Linked DNA regions of Homo sapiens: region 1 is linked to region 2. Evidence: fine-mapped expression QTL. A gene starts in region 2. The other region holds a variant in brackets. All regions are shown on one strand. Distances are from middle to middle.

Region 1 (8,340 bases), 180 kb after region 2:
ATTCTTCATTCTTACATTCATTCTTACATTACAAGAGGAAGGGATATTGGCAAGACAATTGATGTCCTCTTTTGGAAACCTAAATGTTCCCTCTGCTATTCCTGATTTTTGTGTGTCAGTGGGGTGGGGGGAGGGGCGCTTTGAGCAGAAGAAAGGACTTCTCTGGGAATGCCTTGTCACTCCCAAGTTGAGAGAGTAAAACTCTGTTATAGAAGTCTTCAGTATATCAGAGACATGAAAAAGAAGGGTTCCCATGCTTCCAATTAGATATAGGACATTAGTCTCACCATCACCTAGGAAGCTTCTATACTGGCTGTGATGCTTGGTCCCAGCATAAGCCCTGTAACTGCTTGTCAGAATGCAAAGAGCACTGTAGGAACAGTAAGGAGACTGTGCTGGTGTGTCTGTTCTGCTCTGAACTAATGTAGGTAATGGTGTGTTTTCAAGCAAAGTTACTTGACCTCCCTCAGCCTCCATTTCCATATCTGCGAAATAAAAGTGATAGTCTTCATGACCCCCTGAGTTGACATCTGGGGCTCAGATGTAACCCTAACTGTAACCCTTTATGACCCTCTGAGTTGACATCTGGCTCTCAGCCTGTTGCTCTGGTGTGGCTGAGTAGCTCTGCCATCTCAGTGGGCCTTGCCTCTCCCTGGTCAGACTGCAGCACAAGCTGGTTCTCCTGCAGCAACAGTGTGAAGAGAAACAGCAGCTCTTTGAGTCCCTCCAGTCAGAGCTACAAATCTACGAGGCACTTTATGGCAATTCCAAGAAGGGGCTGAAAGGTATGTGTTCTTCTCCCCTCACCCCATGAGCTTTTTGCCCTTGCATAGGATGCTAGTGAGGTCTTTCCTTTGGGAGTTGTGGAGATCATGGGAAGCTACAGAGTTCTGTTGCAGAAACCCCCACCCGAGCCTGGGGCTCCCAGTAGGAGCTCTCAAACACAAAGCCCAACGGGACAGGTTGGTGGCACGAGCAAGATCCGGCCTGATCATTCCTAATTACTTTAAGAAAATCTAGACATTCCTATCAATGTCTAGATTGTAACATTTTTGAAAGCAAAAGAACTGTCCTAATGATATCATCATTTGAAAAGGCCTTTAATATTGTCGGTGATACATACTGACAACCCATTCAGCCCAATGCAGCAGGCAGTCCGCTCCCACCCTGACCCTTTCCCTAGTGACATCTGGCGCTCAGCTTATTGCCCTCTCATGTAATTTTCATAAATCCTGATTTAGTTTCCTGATTTTCTAAAGAGAAGGTGAACTGGAATTTGAAGAAATACAGGGGCTTACCAGGCTGGGCGAATAGCTTAAGTACAAAGTCATGGTGAGTGTTGAGTCAGTGGGGACCAGCCTGCCCACAGGAGAAAATTAAAAGACACAAAAACAAAAACAAAAAAACCTTATAGAAATACCACTAATAGGACCTAAATTTCAATCCTGGATTTAAATATTAAGGACATTTATTGAAGACTTTGCTGCCTGCTGAAATAATAATCTAATATTTGAGAATTTTGATATATTTCTTCATTCTTTAAATGGAGAAGGGTATTCAAAACATAATGTGAATAAGTCACAGCAGGCTGGAACAGAGGACGACATCAATGTCGTGAAATTTAGCAAAGATAAAAAGCAAAATCCTGAGCTTGATTAAAAATATCAGTGGTAGAAATATAGGATGAGGGTAGAAATATAGGACAGGCAGCCATTCATGGACATGAGGGTTTGGGGTTTGGTAGAAACATGTTCACACAAGTAAGGTGTAGGACAAAGGTTGCTAGAAATGCCAGCTCAAACTGGAACTACAGTAGTGTAAGTGTGATGTTCGCCTGTGGAGACCATGTCTAAAATATTGTTAGATTAAGGGGCACCATCTTTGAAAAGGGCGTTGACACACTAGGGAACATAATGAAGACAGGGCGCACAATGGTGTGGACCAGAAATCTCCAACTAGTCAAAGAAACTAAAGAAATGTAGGCTTTCAAAAGATCTTGAGGACATGAGAACTGGCTTCGGATATTTGAAGAAGTGTCAGGTGAAAAAGAACTCATGTATTTTATGTCCCTCCAGAAGGCTAAACAAAGAGTGAAGGGCAGTGGAAGTTAGATTAGAATTATCATAAATCCTGATTTAGTTTCCTGATTTTCTAAAGAGAAGGTGAACTGGAACCTGAAGAAATAGAGGGGGCTCACCAGGCTGGGAGAATAATTTAAGTACACAGTCATGGTGAGTGTTGGGTCAGTGGGACCAGCCTGACCACAGGAGAAGCTTGAGGTTGGAGTGAGAAGTCAGGATGGTGGAGCAGAGTCACCAAATCTTGAAAGCTCACAGGTCAGGGTAAAAGTTGACATTCTGTATAGTAGATAATGAAACTAAGTCTGTTCTTTTTCAAAGAAGATAAGCATATGATGAAAACAGAACTTTAGGATGCTAAGTCTTAGGGGATGTCCTGGAATTGGGAGACATTAGAATCTGGGAAACGTATTGGATGGGTCTAGTGATATTCTGGCACATTAAGAGATGACAGTCTAATATAAGGTGCTATTGGGAAGATGAAAGGGTATAGATAGATTTTAAAACATCTCTTAAAAAATAAGCAAAATTTAGTGAGAAGTTGGGTTGAGAAAGAGAGAGAGGAACATCATAAAACTTTGGGCAAAATTCAAGAGTAGATTATTTACCAAAGTCCCTAAAATTGGTTCATCCTGAGCTACCTTTCCTTTCATGCTTTTCTCCCTGCCTTTTAGGACTCATTTCAAAGCTACAACCACTAAAGCTCCATAATCTCTTATCTGTAATTTCAAAATCCAGTAAGATTTCCAAATTAAATTTTTCAAATACTCATTTAGTGACAAAATCTAGATGATCTGACATGAGGATATTCATAAGTCTTTATTTATCTACTTAGAATATTCACATAGCTCATTGCGGAAATAGTTATATGTTTGATAAAGGATTGTGGCTCACATGCAACTGGGTACATGTTATATATGATATATGCACCCTGTTGCCTTGCTAAAAACTAAAACAAATTTTACCTTTCGAAATACATTTGGCCTTAAGGTTTTCAGATAAGGGATTGTAGCCTCGTAGAATATTTCTTAGATCTCTTCATCCCCAGTACAAAGAAATAGCCATGTGGTGAATGGAGGTAAATATATATACATATATATATTTATATATATGTGCATGTATATATATGTGTGTACATGTCATATATGTACATGTATATGTGTGCACATATATATGTACATGTATATGTGTGCACATATATATGTACATGTATATGTGTGCACATATATATGTACATGTATATGTGTGCACATATATATGTACATGTATATGTGTGCACATATATATGTACATGTATATGTGTGCACATATATATGTACATGTATATGTGTGTACATATATATGTACATGTATATGTGTGCACATATATATGTACATGTATATGTGTGCACATATATACACCTATATATAGTATGTATATACACACAACATATATAAACACACTATATGTAGGTGTATATATATGTACACACACACACACATATATATAGAGAGAGAGAGAGAAAGAGAGAGAGAGAAATTGAAAAACTCAGTTATAATCCCTCGTCTAAGGTGCCCAACTCACATTCTCACATGCTACCAAAAGACCTCCTCCTTCTCTTTCATTTTTGAGAGTGAGGACTATGAAATCTCTTTCTTCCTCATCCCCTACCCTTCTCTAGCTCAGTGCTGACCTTCTACCTTGGAGTATCCTATACTTTAGCCTACAGGATTAAGGTTACTATGGAGATGAAATATGGACTTATCTTCATCTGCCAATCAAATGCTCTATAGGTGCATGTGTGTAACTTAAGCCGCAGGGAAGTTTCAGACTGGATGTGTGCCAGCTCAGTGCCATCCCCAGGCCACACACAGAAATGGTGACATCTCCATCACAGATGGGTTGCATGAGACTCAGATGATAGTGGGGTCCTTGGCAGAAAAGAATGTCACAGAGGAGGGTTCTGACAAGTGCTTGGAAATACTTGGGTCAATGTTACCAGACTCCTTCTCTCTCAGCTTACAGCCTGGATGCCTGTCACCAAATCCCTTTGAGCAGTGACCTGAGCCACCTGGTGGCAGAGGTACGAGCTCTGAGAGGGCAGCTGGAGCAGAGCATTCAGGGGAACAATTGTCTGCGACTGCAGCTGCAACAGCAGCTGGAGAGCGGTGCTGGCAAAGCCAGCCTCAGCCCCTCCTCCATTAACCAGAACTTCCCAGCCAGCACTGACCCTGGAAACAAGCAGCTGCTCCTCCAAGGTAGGAAGGAAAAGGGACTTAGAAAGCCCTTGGCCAGTGGGGAGATCACCAGGAAGTTCTGCGGCAGAAGGTGTAATCTGCCTGGTCCATGCTCCTTAGGGTCAGGTTGAAATCAGAGATGCTCTAGTCTAGCAACCTGAGTGAAAGCGTGGGATTTAGGTCAGACTGGGCTCCAGATTCTGAGTTTACCACTTAGAGGTCGTTTGATTTGGGCAAGGTGTCTAAAGTCTCAGAGGTTTAAGCTTTAGTTTCCTTATATTTAAGATGAGGATAATGATCATATGTACCTTATATGATTTTGAGCATTAAATGAAATCATTTACAAGTGCTTGGCACACTAAGAATTACTCAATAATTAGCAGCTGTATATGTTCATATCTTTTTCTTGGATTTGCTTGGTGCTTTAGTTTTAGCCAAGTGTTTTCACATATATAATTTCATCTGAAGTAAAGCAGGTTTTGCTATCTCTGTATTTCACATAAGAAAACTTAGGTCCTGAGATATTAACAGACAAGCGGGGATTTAGAGAAGTTATAGACAAAGCCAGGATCAGAACCAGATGTTGTGATTTTCAGTCTGTGTTCCTTCCAGCTCATTGTGCCCTGTCTCAGTATTGCCGACCTTCCCAGATTCTCTAGTCCCCCTTTCCCTCACAGGTGGGGAACTCAGTGTATGGTAAAATGTTCCTGCCCCTAAGGAAACAGGGCTCTGGGGAAGTCCTGGATGGTGGGTGATTTATTTCGGGTGGTCATCATTCGCTTTCTCTACCCCACCCCTTGCCTGCCTTTTCAGATAGGC[G/A]TGTTTGACCAGGTCCCCCTTCTCAATATCCTCTATCAATCTCACTTCTCCCAGTTTTCATTGAAATGTCAATGGTGTCCCCCTAGTCTCTTAAATCATTCAATTTCTACTTCCTCTGTCCTTTTCTCCTTTTGATACACCGTTTAGTACACCATCTCCACTCACCTCCATGGCCATACCTTCAATTTTATTCAAATCAGGAACCACTTCTGTTCAGTTTCTCTAAAGCTGAGCTTTCAAACTCTCCTGCCAGCTATTTCTGGGTCATGTTAATCTTTGTTTTTCTGTGGTTCTTGTAGATTCTCATTTATCTGACAGTAACCTTATTTGTCAAATGAAGGTGACAATAACATGATTATGCTGTTTTGGCAATTCAATAAAAAAACACATGTGGTCCACCAAGCAAACCGCCTGACCACCAGGCACTGCTCAGCTTACATTAGTTGGACACCTTGCCCTCCTCTGGGCTGCCCTGATGGTTGTGGTGTTCAGTTATGTCTCCAACTCTTCCTTCTAACCAGGCCTTCTTCTCTCACTGGCTTCCCATACAGCAGCCAAGACTCAGCCCCACTGATGCAGTCCCTGCCCCTCTTTCTCTAGCACCCCGGAGGCCTGAGCTGGAAAGCAGGCACTGGGCCACACTTGCCTGAGCAGGACCTTTTCTACCTTCTTTGTGATATTTTCCAATTCCTCCACCATAGGGTTGCTTTTTAGTCTCCAGCAAGACAATGTTAACCCACCAAGCCTTCTGTCTCCGTTCTTCTCATACAAGTCAATTTTTTTCAGTATTACCTCATCAGAATGATGACTAGAATGTTGAGTCCCCCATGAATCCATTCATTCCTTGATTCTTTGATTCTAGATTTTAATATGTACTATGTATATTTATACATATTACATTTAGTTACAGGGCATCATATTAGATACCACACACAAATTATACTTAAGACTCGGTTTATAAAAATACACCTAATAATTTTTCAAACTAGAAGTTACGTTCTCATGGAACACCCCTCAATTACAGGAATATCTTTTTGTTCTGAAGAATGGAAACATTCTGAACTCAGTGACTCATAGGCTTTTGATTTTGCTTTGGCTTGTGGGGTATGGATAATTCTGTAAGAGGAGAGTCCTGCCACCTTAGGTCTCAGTGGGGACAGCTAGGTGTGCATGTGCTTCATGTGCAGTGTGTTCCAGGGCTCCTGAAAACTGTGGTTGCCTTTACCCCCTAGATTCAGCTGTGTCCCCTCCAGTCCGGGATGTTGGTATGAATTCCCCAGCTCTGGTCTTCCCCAGCTCTGCTTCCTCTACTCCTGGCTCAGAAACGCCCATAATCAACAGAGCAAATGGTAAATATGGCAACTAAAGGGCCCAGGGACTGATGATGGAAAGTGATTAATGCAAACAACCTTTTGTTGTCTCTAAACATATTATCTGTATTTAGAGAGTTTTCTCTGCATGCCCCAAGGCCTTTAGCCCTACTCCCTGCACCTTCTGTGGCTGCCTTTCTTGCCATTGTTCATCCTCCTGTAGTTTTCCTACTGCTGTTTTTGCTTCATTGCACCATAATCTCTCTATTCTTGAAAATGCTGTCTGTATCCAGCTTGACTTCCTTGTCTGTGTCTTCTCTACTCAGAAACTTATTATTTATTATGATTCATCCTATTTCATTTGCCAATAAGGAAAAAATTGTCTCCTGGCAAATTTATCATTAAGAGATAATGTAAGAAAGATTATAAAAATATAGAAGCCAGAAGATCTCTATGGACTTTGCCCCACCCTTGTACATTCCCAGGCTTCCTTTCTTGTTCCCGGCCTCGTCCTTTTCTTGTTCCCTACCTCTTTTTTAGTTGGAGCAAACTGAGGATATCATTATGAATAACAGAAGATTCTGTTGTGTTGTCATTTTCTTTTTCAGGCTTGGGTTTGGATACTTCTCCAGTAATGAAGACCCCTCCCAAGCTAGAGGGTGATGCTACTGATGGCTCCTTTGCCAATAAGCATGGCCGCCATGTCATTGGCCACATTGATGACTACAGTGCCCTAAGACAGCAGATTGCGGAGGGCAAGCTGCTGGTCAAAAAGATAGTGTCTCTTGTGAGATCAGCGTGCAGCTTCCCTGGCCTTGAAGCCCAAGGCACAGAGGTAATCACACCTGAAGCTTTAGGTGCACTCTTTCCCTGTGCCCTTTCTTCCTTTGATGTTAACTCCTTCTCCCACCATTTTTGTTTTTTTCATGCTTTGCATCTCTCAACAGCTGAGACTTCCTCTTCCATGTATAGCAGCCAGGCCCTTTCTTCTCTATCTCCTATTTTCACTGTGAGTTCTGCTCTGTTCCAGATGTAGCTGACTGGATATTTCCCCTCAGCCCCACAGAAACATGTGGCATTGCCTAGCAGCCTTTGGTAGCTTATTATCTACCATAGTCATGCAGGCACATGACCATCTGTGGGCAGAGTCAACTCAATGGGATGGATAGAAACTGAAGGATTTGCAGGTGTATGGCCCCCACATGTGGAAGGGGTGAGAAGCCTGGCAGCCATGTCATTTCCTTGTGCAGACTGCATAGAGGGAGGGAAGGCAGTCAGCAAAGCTTCTGAGAGCACCTTGCCAGTGAGAGAGACCAGGAACCTGTGGCTGTGCTGTCTGAGCTGCTGGAGACCCATGGATGCGTAGGGACAGCCCTGCCTCCACGGAGCCCCCACACTAGAGGGCAAGACACACACCCAAGTAGATAAGCACAGTAAGGGGCTACAGGCACAGTATGAGAAGTCATCCTCTGTGCTGTGAGAGCTCCAATACAAATGTGGTCATTTATCTCAGGCAAGGAAGGTAACAGGCTCATAGAGGACATAGCAAGGGGGGTGAGTTTTGAAAGCCTTGTGGGTTCTGCAGGTGGAGGAAGGCATTCCTGGTAAAGGGAGCAGCACCTTAGTTCTGAGAGCTGCAAATGGTTGTGTGAGGGCTTCACAGGTTCAAGCAGGCCCATGTTCTATGCCTCACTCACAAAGGAAGCTTGAGCCCATGCAGGGGGAAGAAAGTAATCTCTCCGCTCCTGTGGTGTTACCTTTCCCCAGGTGCTAGGCAGCAAAGGTATTCATGAGCTTCGGAGCAGCACCAGTGCCCTGCACCATGCCCTAGAGGAGTCAGCTTCCCTCCTCACCATGTTCTGGAGAGCGGCCCTGCCAAGCACCCACATCCCTGTGCTGCCTGGCAAAGTGGTAAG
Region 2 (8,340 bases):
CAAAAATATATTAGACATAGCTATTTTTATTATTGATGTATAGATTATGCAGTAAACTATATCAACATCAATAATCCTTTTTACCCAGAAACAAGTTGGAGAGAAGAAAAGGAAAATGAATTTTAAAAACTGAATGAAAGGTAAAAGTATCATTGGAATATTTGGAGCTGACTGTAAAGACTGTGACACCTTCCGATTTTTTGTCCCTTATCATCAATTCAGGTATTCCCTGAAGCACAATCAGTTGACCAAACTAAGAGCAGTGCCCTCAGGAAAGAATAAAATGAATAGTTTAATTTATCAACATCATTTACCCAGGTTATTTGAGTTCTTTTTATTTATTTTTTTTTTTGAGACGGAATCTCGCTGTCGCCCAGGTTGGAGTGCAGTGGCGCGATCTCGGCTCGCTGCAGGCTCCGCCTCCCAGGTTCACGCCATTCTCCTGCCTCAACCTCCCGTGTAGTTGGGACTATAGGCGCCCGCCACCTCGCCCGGCTAATTTTTTGTATTTTTAGTAGAGACGGGGTTTCACCGTGTTAGCCAGGATGGTCTCGATCTGCTGACCTCGTGATCCGCCCGCCTCGGCCTCCCAAAGTGCTGGGATTACAGGCGTGAGCCACCGCGCCCGGCCGGTTATTTGAGTTCTAAGCCAGAAAACTGAGAGCAGACACACACATAACGATACTTGGTTGCAAAATGGAAATAAAAAGCAATGTGTTAGGATAGGCTAGATTATGCTCCAGTAATAAATAATCTCCAAATCTCAGTAACTTAATACAACAAAAATGAATTTCTTGCTCATTCTACATGTTCAATTAGGGTTAGCAGGAAGGCTCTGACCATCACAGTAACTCAGGGACTTAGGTTGATGAAAGCTTCATCTTATTGATCTTCAAGGATCAATAAAACAGCGGAAACTGAAAAGGGCCAATTATGTACTAGCTCTTAAAAATGTCTGCGTTCTTCCCAGAAGTGACCACATGAGACTTCCTCTCACGTTTCAGCCAACGAAACAAGTTACATTTCACTGTTCAAAAGTCATAGCTAAGTTAAAATGGGATGAGGAAGAATAAAGTTACCATGTATCTACAAGGAGAAAAGCTTAACAAAAAGCAAGAAAGCAGCACATACAGTGACTGGTGGATTGCATTATTGTTCCACAAATATTACTCTCCCCTCCTGCACTCTGTGGGCAGACTGTACTTTTCTGCACCAATGACTTTGGACTTGGCCATGTTACTTACTTTGGTGAACGGAAAATGGCAGAAGCGAGACTGTGCCAGTTCTGAGCAGAGACCAGTCATCATGAGTCTCTGCCAACTCTCTTGCACTCCTGCACTCTGCCATGAAAATGACAGACTTAAACCAATCCATACCTAAACTATAGATCCTTGAGGGAGAAATGGATGTGTGTTGTATAATACTGAGATTGGGGAGTTCTTTGTTGAGCAGCATTGTTTCAGCAAAAAGATGACTAATACAGTGACTCAACACAAGGATTTCATGAGACTGGCTACTACACATATGGTTTCCAAGAAAGGATATGAAATAAGACCTTACTAGCTAGTATTCTAAGAAACGTAAAGCAAAATGAGATGGTGTTACATTATTAGTATACTAGCTAGATATAGAACTAAAATATAACTATCCAATTATTTACAAATTAAATAAGAAAAAAAATAAAAGGAGAATTTCTAGTGCTTTTGAGGCTAAGATAATAAAATTAGAAAGTCCTTTTATCCCAGGAAAATCGCCTTTAGTCCATTCCTGCTGCTATAGCAAAATAGCTTAGACTGGGTAATTTGTAAATAATAGAAATTTATTTCTCACAGTTCTGAAGGCTGGACCAAGATCAAGGTGCTGGCAGATTCAGTGTCTGGAAGAGCTTGCTCTCTGCTCCCAAGATGGCTCCTTGTTGCCACAGATGCTGTGTCCTCACATGGCTGGAGGGACAGAGGACAAAAGGGACCAGAGCAATCCTTTCAACCTCTTTTTTAAGAGCACTAATCCCATTCATGAGAGTGGAGTGTTCATGCCTTATCACTTCCTAAGACATATTCCTAAAAGGCCCCACCCTGTAGTACTATAACACTCGGTGTTAAGTACCAATGTATGAATTTTGAAGGCATACATACATTCAACCATAGCATAATTCAAAAAAGGAGAATGATAAAGGCAGAAAGCTCTTCATTAAGGCATTATTTATAACAGTCTAATATCAGAAACAGCATAACTATGCAATAGTAGAATATTTTAAGTAATCTATGGTCCTACTAATATTATAAAATATTGTACACTCATTAGAATAATAACTATGAACTTTCCCTAAAAACATGGACAAATATTTACTAAGTGAAAGAAGGAGAATATAAACATATACCTAAGCTGTAATCGTAATTATGTAAATAGATATTTAATATATATAGATAATGACTAAAGGGAATTTGGAGAAATTTAAACATTTGTGCTGTAGCAGTGGTTATATGGGTGAATATTTTTCTTCTGAAATCTAACGCAAAAAAATTGTTCTTTTGACAATAAGTATAATTTTTAAAACAACAAGGAAATTTCTCTTCTCAAGAATATACCCATGTGTGTAAGAAAGAGTTGGTGTTTGGATTAAAAGATGCATTTTTTAAAGAGTGGGAAAAAAATGCAACACATTTTTAATATTGAAGATCCCTGGGTATTCTGAGTAATCTATATAACTTTCTGTATTTTTCAAATGTTTTTACAATGAATGTGCTATAAACTTTTGAAAAAAGTTATTTTAAAAATACATGAACGTATTTTCTAGCGTCACTTCTGAGACCCCACAGCTCACCTAGTTAGTGCTATCATTTCTTGAATCCAGTGAGCTGCCTGTAGACAGAGTTCCTCTCCACAACTCGGTAGCCCATAATTTGATTTGAGACAAAGCTAAATATAGCCCCAACTTTGGTATGAAGGATGGGAATCTGACTCTCCCTGCCTTTTCTTCCCCCCCATCAGAGGCAACAGGATATTCTTTTCAAGACAGGTGGCCTGTGAGCCTTGTCTAAGATCAAACTGGACCTTGAAATTTTTCCTGGTAACATTTTGAGCTCTGGAGCAGTGTGGTCCTACCAATAAATCAAGTGTTGGAGGAGTCTAGACTAGGGGCTTTTTAGACAGTTCTGCTAAACCTTCAAATGTTTTGTTATCCTCCCCTCCCCACCCCTACTTTGTACTAGTATGTAGGGGAACCAATCCAAGAGATAACAGACAGATGACAGGTTCCCCCAAGAACACAGACTCCCCACAGTCTCACCAATACCCAGGCATGCCAGGTTCTTCCTGAGTTAAATGCCTAGGAGGCCTGAAAGAATAAATTCATCCTGGAGAAGTCTTGTGGGTCGTAGCTTTAGAAATTCAGGGAACATATCTCTGGGGCCACCCAATGGAGAACACAGCCTGTATCAGAACCTTAGCAGAGACTTTGGGCCTTTTGGGGTCTCAAATTTATCATCTCTGAAACAAGTACAACGAAATTAACATTGCCACATGTGGGCACTATAAAGCCTTTTTCAGATAAAAAAAAAGGTCAGTGATAGTGCTAATAATAACAGTGATTATGTCATTTAATAAAACGGTCTTATTTGAAAGCTAAAAAGGAGCTTCAGGGTGGCAAGCACTCTAATTATAGTATGTCTGCCTTGTTTAAATCTTGATACATAAGTACATGGTACAGGGCCTGAGGCAATGCCATCTCCAAAGAGGCCTTTTCCATGATCTTAAAACAGTCACAAGGGAGTGTCGAGGTCCTGATGGCTACTGTCTTGAGGCTTTTCTAGTGTTCTGGGAGTCAGGAAGCTTCTCCCTCCTTGAAGCTATTGGTAGAGCCCAGTTGCTGGCGAAACTGAAAAACGAGGAGGTAGAATACCCTAAAACAGGAGATGTCTGGGATACAGGCAGCTAATAGGGCTGTAAGGTTTTGTTGGGATGCTTCCCTTCCTGATGAAGGGTCCTGTCCCTGGATTAATGGTGAAACTGGCATGTCACATCTCTAGGAAGACAACATCGTGTTCCATGACCACGTAGGGTATACATCTGCATTCAGCCGGGATTGCTCCTAAACCTTCCTAGACTCCATCTCTGGCTCTGGGGTTACCTGTGGGTGGGGCGATGCAGACACACAAGAAAACCTCCTCTACAAATTCTTCCTGTAGTTGGTTGATTGTATTCTAAGACCTTCGTTGGGATGGGCGAGGGACGGGGCTTGGTACCGCGTCCTCTAAGCTCTCTGCCCTCTGCCGTCATCATTCATCTGAGCCAGCGAGAGAGGGGTCGGGGAGACGCGAGGGTGGTTCAGGGGGCGTGTAACCTGGGCCGATTCTGCCCCAGCACACTGGTTGTCGGGAGCCCCGCCTCCGCTCGCGGTTGACAGCTCAGCTGGTGCCGAGCAACTCGTGCCAGCCAGTCGTGTCTCAGCCTGGAGAGTGCGCGCACCGCGGCCCGGGCAGCCGCTGGCTCCAGCTCACGAAACAGCCCCGGGCGCCGCGCCGCTCTGAGTCCAGCCTCCTACTGAGAACAGTCCCTCCCTTGTGCGGGTCGCACGGCTAGCCGCAGGTTCGGCCACGTCAAATCCATTTTCTAAAAAAGCAGGGAGCAGAGCTCTCTCTTCGCCGCCGACGCAGAAAGGAGCTGGGGAGGAAAAAGCTGCTGCCTTTTGCGCTGGAGATTCGTGGGCAAGGCTTCTCATTTTCCCAGGCTGCTTCCCCTCCCGGGTGAGGAGCGTCCTGAGACTAAGGAAAGAGCCTGGAAAATGGAGCAGACCTGGACGAGGTAGGTGGGCTGTTTCCTTCTCGCCGCGCTCCAGACTTGGTGGTCCTCCTCCCTCCCCTCCCCCAGCGCCCTTAGGGAGAGAGAGGTCGCCCCTCACCACCAGGGTCCCGTGACAGCTTCCCTTTTCTGTAGCCTCGCCCTGCCTGGTTCCCAGCCCACCTCTCTTGGTCATTTTCACATGTTCTGTTTTACGGGGTTTCCCTTGCTTAATGACTCTCCCCTCCACCGAGTCCTGATGTTAAAAATACCCAGGGAGGCCGCCTGGAACTTTCTGTAGAAATGGTTCTCTGTCGTTTCCTTGTTCGTGTGGCTAGAGGGATTCCAGTAGGTCTTCTTGAGAGATATGTTTGATGTCAGATGCTTTGAACAATATCAGGTTTATTCTCACCCTGCCACGTTTTCCTTCTCAGCCTCATCTGTCACTACTCACACAAAGGCAAAGGGACTGAGTGAGCAGAGCCCAGCAGCACTCATCTCCACAACCTCCAGTTGGAGCCCACTTGGGGGAGGAATGGAGAAGGAAAGAGATCAGGGCACCACACTGCTCAGGCTTTATTGAGGCCAGGCAACAGTTGGCTTTTAGGTCAGATTTTGGAGATGGCCTGTGAAACTGCGTTTTCTTCCAGTCCTTCCCCCAGACACACTTTAAAATGAAGCCCCATTCAAGGAAAGGGTAAGGATAAGAGACCATGTATTGAGACAAAGACTTCGTTTCTGTTTTTTAGTGGGTGGGAGGGTAGGGAGACTATTCCAGCGGTGTCTCTATAACAGATACGCTTCCATCTGTGGGATTTAGCTTTGGAGAATTGGGGTGGGGCCAAATGAGCGCTCTGACTCCTGAGAGAGTGAAGACGGTACAAACACAGAAGGTAAATTTGGGGCTTATGCAAAAGACTTGGGTGCTTTTAGTTGATTGCTAAGCTCAACAGGAGTGAATGGTATAATGTGAATATTAAAGAAGGAGCAAATTGAAGCTTAGGGTTTGTTGACAGAAGAAGTAGGCTGTCTAGATTCTGTCTAGATCAAAAGTGATGATTTTACTTTTGGCTCCTTTCTGCTCCTCTTGGGCCTCTCCGAGAGGGCTGTGCTTAGTTCTGGGCATCATTAGATAAAATAAGTACAATCAAGAGACAGGAGGGAACTCAAAGCCATGCCTTGAGGGATGGCCAAAGGAAGGACCTGGGACTCCTGAGTCCGGAGAAATGACGACTGGGAGTGGGGAGGATGTGGTAGCTTCCTTCAAATTTCCGAAGAGCTATTGGTGGTAGAGGGATTGAATCACATTAGAATCTCTTAGGAGGACAGAACAACCGATGCAAGCGAGTTGTTGGGAGGCGAGTTATGGCTCAGTGTAAAGAAAAAGCTTTCTGGCCAGGTGCAGTGGCTCATGCCTGTAATCCCAGCACTTTGGGAGGCTGAGGCAGGCGGATCACCTGAGGTCGGGAGTTCGAGACCAGCCTGACCAACATGGAGAAACCCCATCTCTACTAAAATACAAAATTAGCCGGGCGTGGTCGCACGTGCCTGTAATCCCAGCTACTCCGGAGGCTGAGGCAGGAGAATCGCTTGAACCCGGGAGGAGAAGTTTGTGGTGAGCCGAGATCAAGCCATTGCACTCCAGCCTGGGCAACAAAAGCGAAACTCCGCCTCAAAAAAAAAAAAAAAAAAAAAAAAAAAAAAGACCAGGCGAGGTGGCTCACGCCTGTAATTGCAGTACTTTGGGAGGCTGAGGGGGGCGGATTACGAGGTCAGGAGATTGAGACCATCCTGGCTAACACAGTGAAGCCCCGTCTCTACTAAAAACACAAAAAAAATTAGCCGGGCGTGGTGGCGGGCGCCTGTAGTACCAGCTACTTGGGAGGCTGAGGTAGGAGAATGGCGTGAACCCGGGAAGCGGAGCTTGCAGTGAGCCGAGATCGCGCCACTGCACTCCAGCCTGGGCGACAGAGCGAGACTCCGTCTCAAAAAAAAATTAAAAAAAAGCTTTCTAACAAGTTAGCTGCCTGGGCAGTATGGGCAGTAAAGAGATTGTTGACCCTGGAGTTACTCAGGCAAAGGCTAGATGACCACTTGATGGTGATGGGAGTGAGTGTATCAGGGCCTTTTGCTCTCTGCCAGTGTTTTTCACACTTGAAGAAAAAAGTATTATTTATTAAGTTTTAAAAATTTTATATTTACATGTAACAATTTCAGACAAATTCAGAAATGATTTGGAAAAATCGCAAATTATATATTTACAGTCCAATTAATTTGACAAACTGAGTATACTCATGGGATGGGCATTCAGATAGAGAAAGGGAACATTACCAGCATCCCTGAAGCCCTCCTGATGACTTCAAGGATAATCATTATCCTAATTTTTAACACCATAGAATAATTTTGCCTAGTTTTGAACTTTATGTAAATGAAATTATACACCATGTACTCTTTCGTACGTGGCTCCTTTCACTCAATCTTTTGCTTTTGGAGTTCTATACTGTTATATGGTACTGTAGTCCATTTATTCTTGCTTTTAAATAGGCTTCTATAGTGTATAAATATATCAAATTTATTTGTCCATTCTATTCTTAATAGGCACTTGGGCAATTTCCAGTTTGGAGCTATTATAAACAGTGTTGCTATGAACATTTCTGTACAGGTCTTTTGATGAACATATGTACACATTTCTGTTGAGTAAATAAGTAGAAGTATGATTTCTGCGTAATAGGAAATGCATGTTCAGATTTAGTAAATACTGCCAGATTGTTTTTTTTTAAACAGATTACAAAAGAGATTTCTAAAGCGGGTATCCAGGCCAGGCGCGGTGGCTCACGCCTGTAATCCCAGCACTTTGGGAGGCCGAGGCGGGCGGATCACGGGGTCAGGAGATCGAGATAGTCCTGGCTAACACGGTGAAACCCCGTCTCTACTAAAAATACAAAAAATTAGCCCGGCGTGGTTGCAGGCACCTGTAGTCCCAGCTACTCGGGAGGCTGAGGCAGGAGAATGGCCTGAACCTGGGAGGCGGAGCTTGCAGTGAGCCGAGATCGCACCACTGCACTCCAGCCTGGGTGACAGAGCGAGCCTACATCTCAAAAAAAAAAAAAAAAAAAAAAAAAAAAAAAAAAAAAAAAAAAAAAAAGAGGGTATCCAAAGGGAAGAACATAGTGAAAAGGTGCTCCACATCACTAGTTATCAGGGAAATGCAAATTAGAACCACAACACCATGCTGCTATATACATATCAGAATGGCTGAAATTAAAAAGATAGAAAGTAGCAAATGCTGGCAAGGTGGACCATTCAGAATGTTCACATATTTTTTAACCACTACTCACAATAAGTAATATATTTACATTGCCACCAAGTACTCTTACATATGTAACAAAGTTTCTTGTAACAATACTTAACTTTACTATGTGTTTTGCACTCTGATATTTGCTATTCTATTCTTTTTCTTTAAAAATAAAATGTTGGCTCTGATTCACTGAATTTATTTCTCCACCTAATGGGTCACAGTTGGAAAAATCCTATAATCACAGATCATGGCTGACATCTCAG

Evidence for each region.
Region 1: its variant is fine-mapped to the expression of PDE4DIP in whole blood (TOPMed, PIP above 0.99).

Annotation. Positions count from the first base shown.
Region 1 is chr1:149,020,369-149,028,708 of GRCh38, forward strand. It overlaps PDE4DIP (phosphodiesterase 4D interacting protein), which reads left to right. Exons shown (of 47, transcript NM_001395426.1): 40 at 661-785; 41 at 4,077-4,316; 42 at 6,347-6,463; 43 at 7,033-7,259; 44 at 8,192-8,335. Among named protein-coding and RNA genes, the nearest start is that of NBPF9, 79 kb to the right of the region's middle. The variant G/A (reference allele first, on the strand shown) is at 5,115.
Region 2 is chr1:148,839,992-148,848,331 of GRCh38, forward strand. It overlaps PDE4DIP (phosphodiesterase 4D interacting protein), which reads left to right and starts at 4,437. Exons shown (of 47, transcript NM_001395426.1): 1 at 4,437-4,803. The coding sequence starts at 4,784. RefSeq lists enhancers at 3,886-4,607, 4,608-5,330.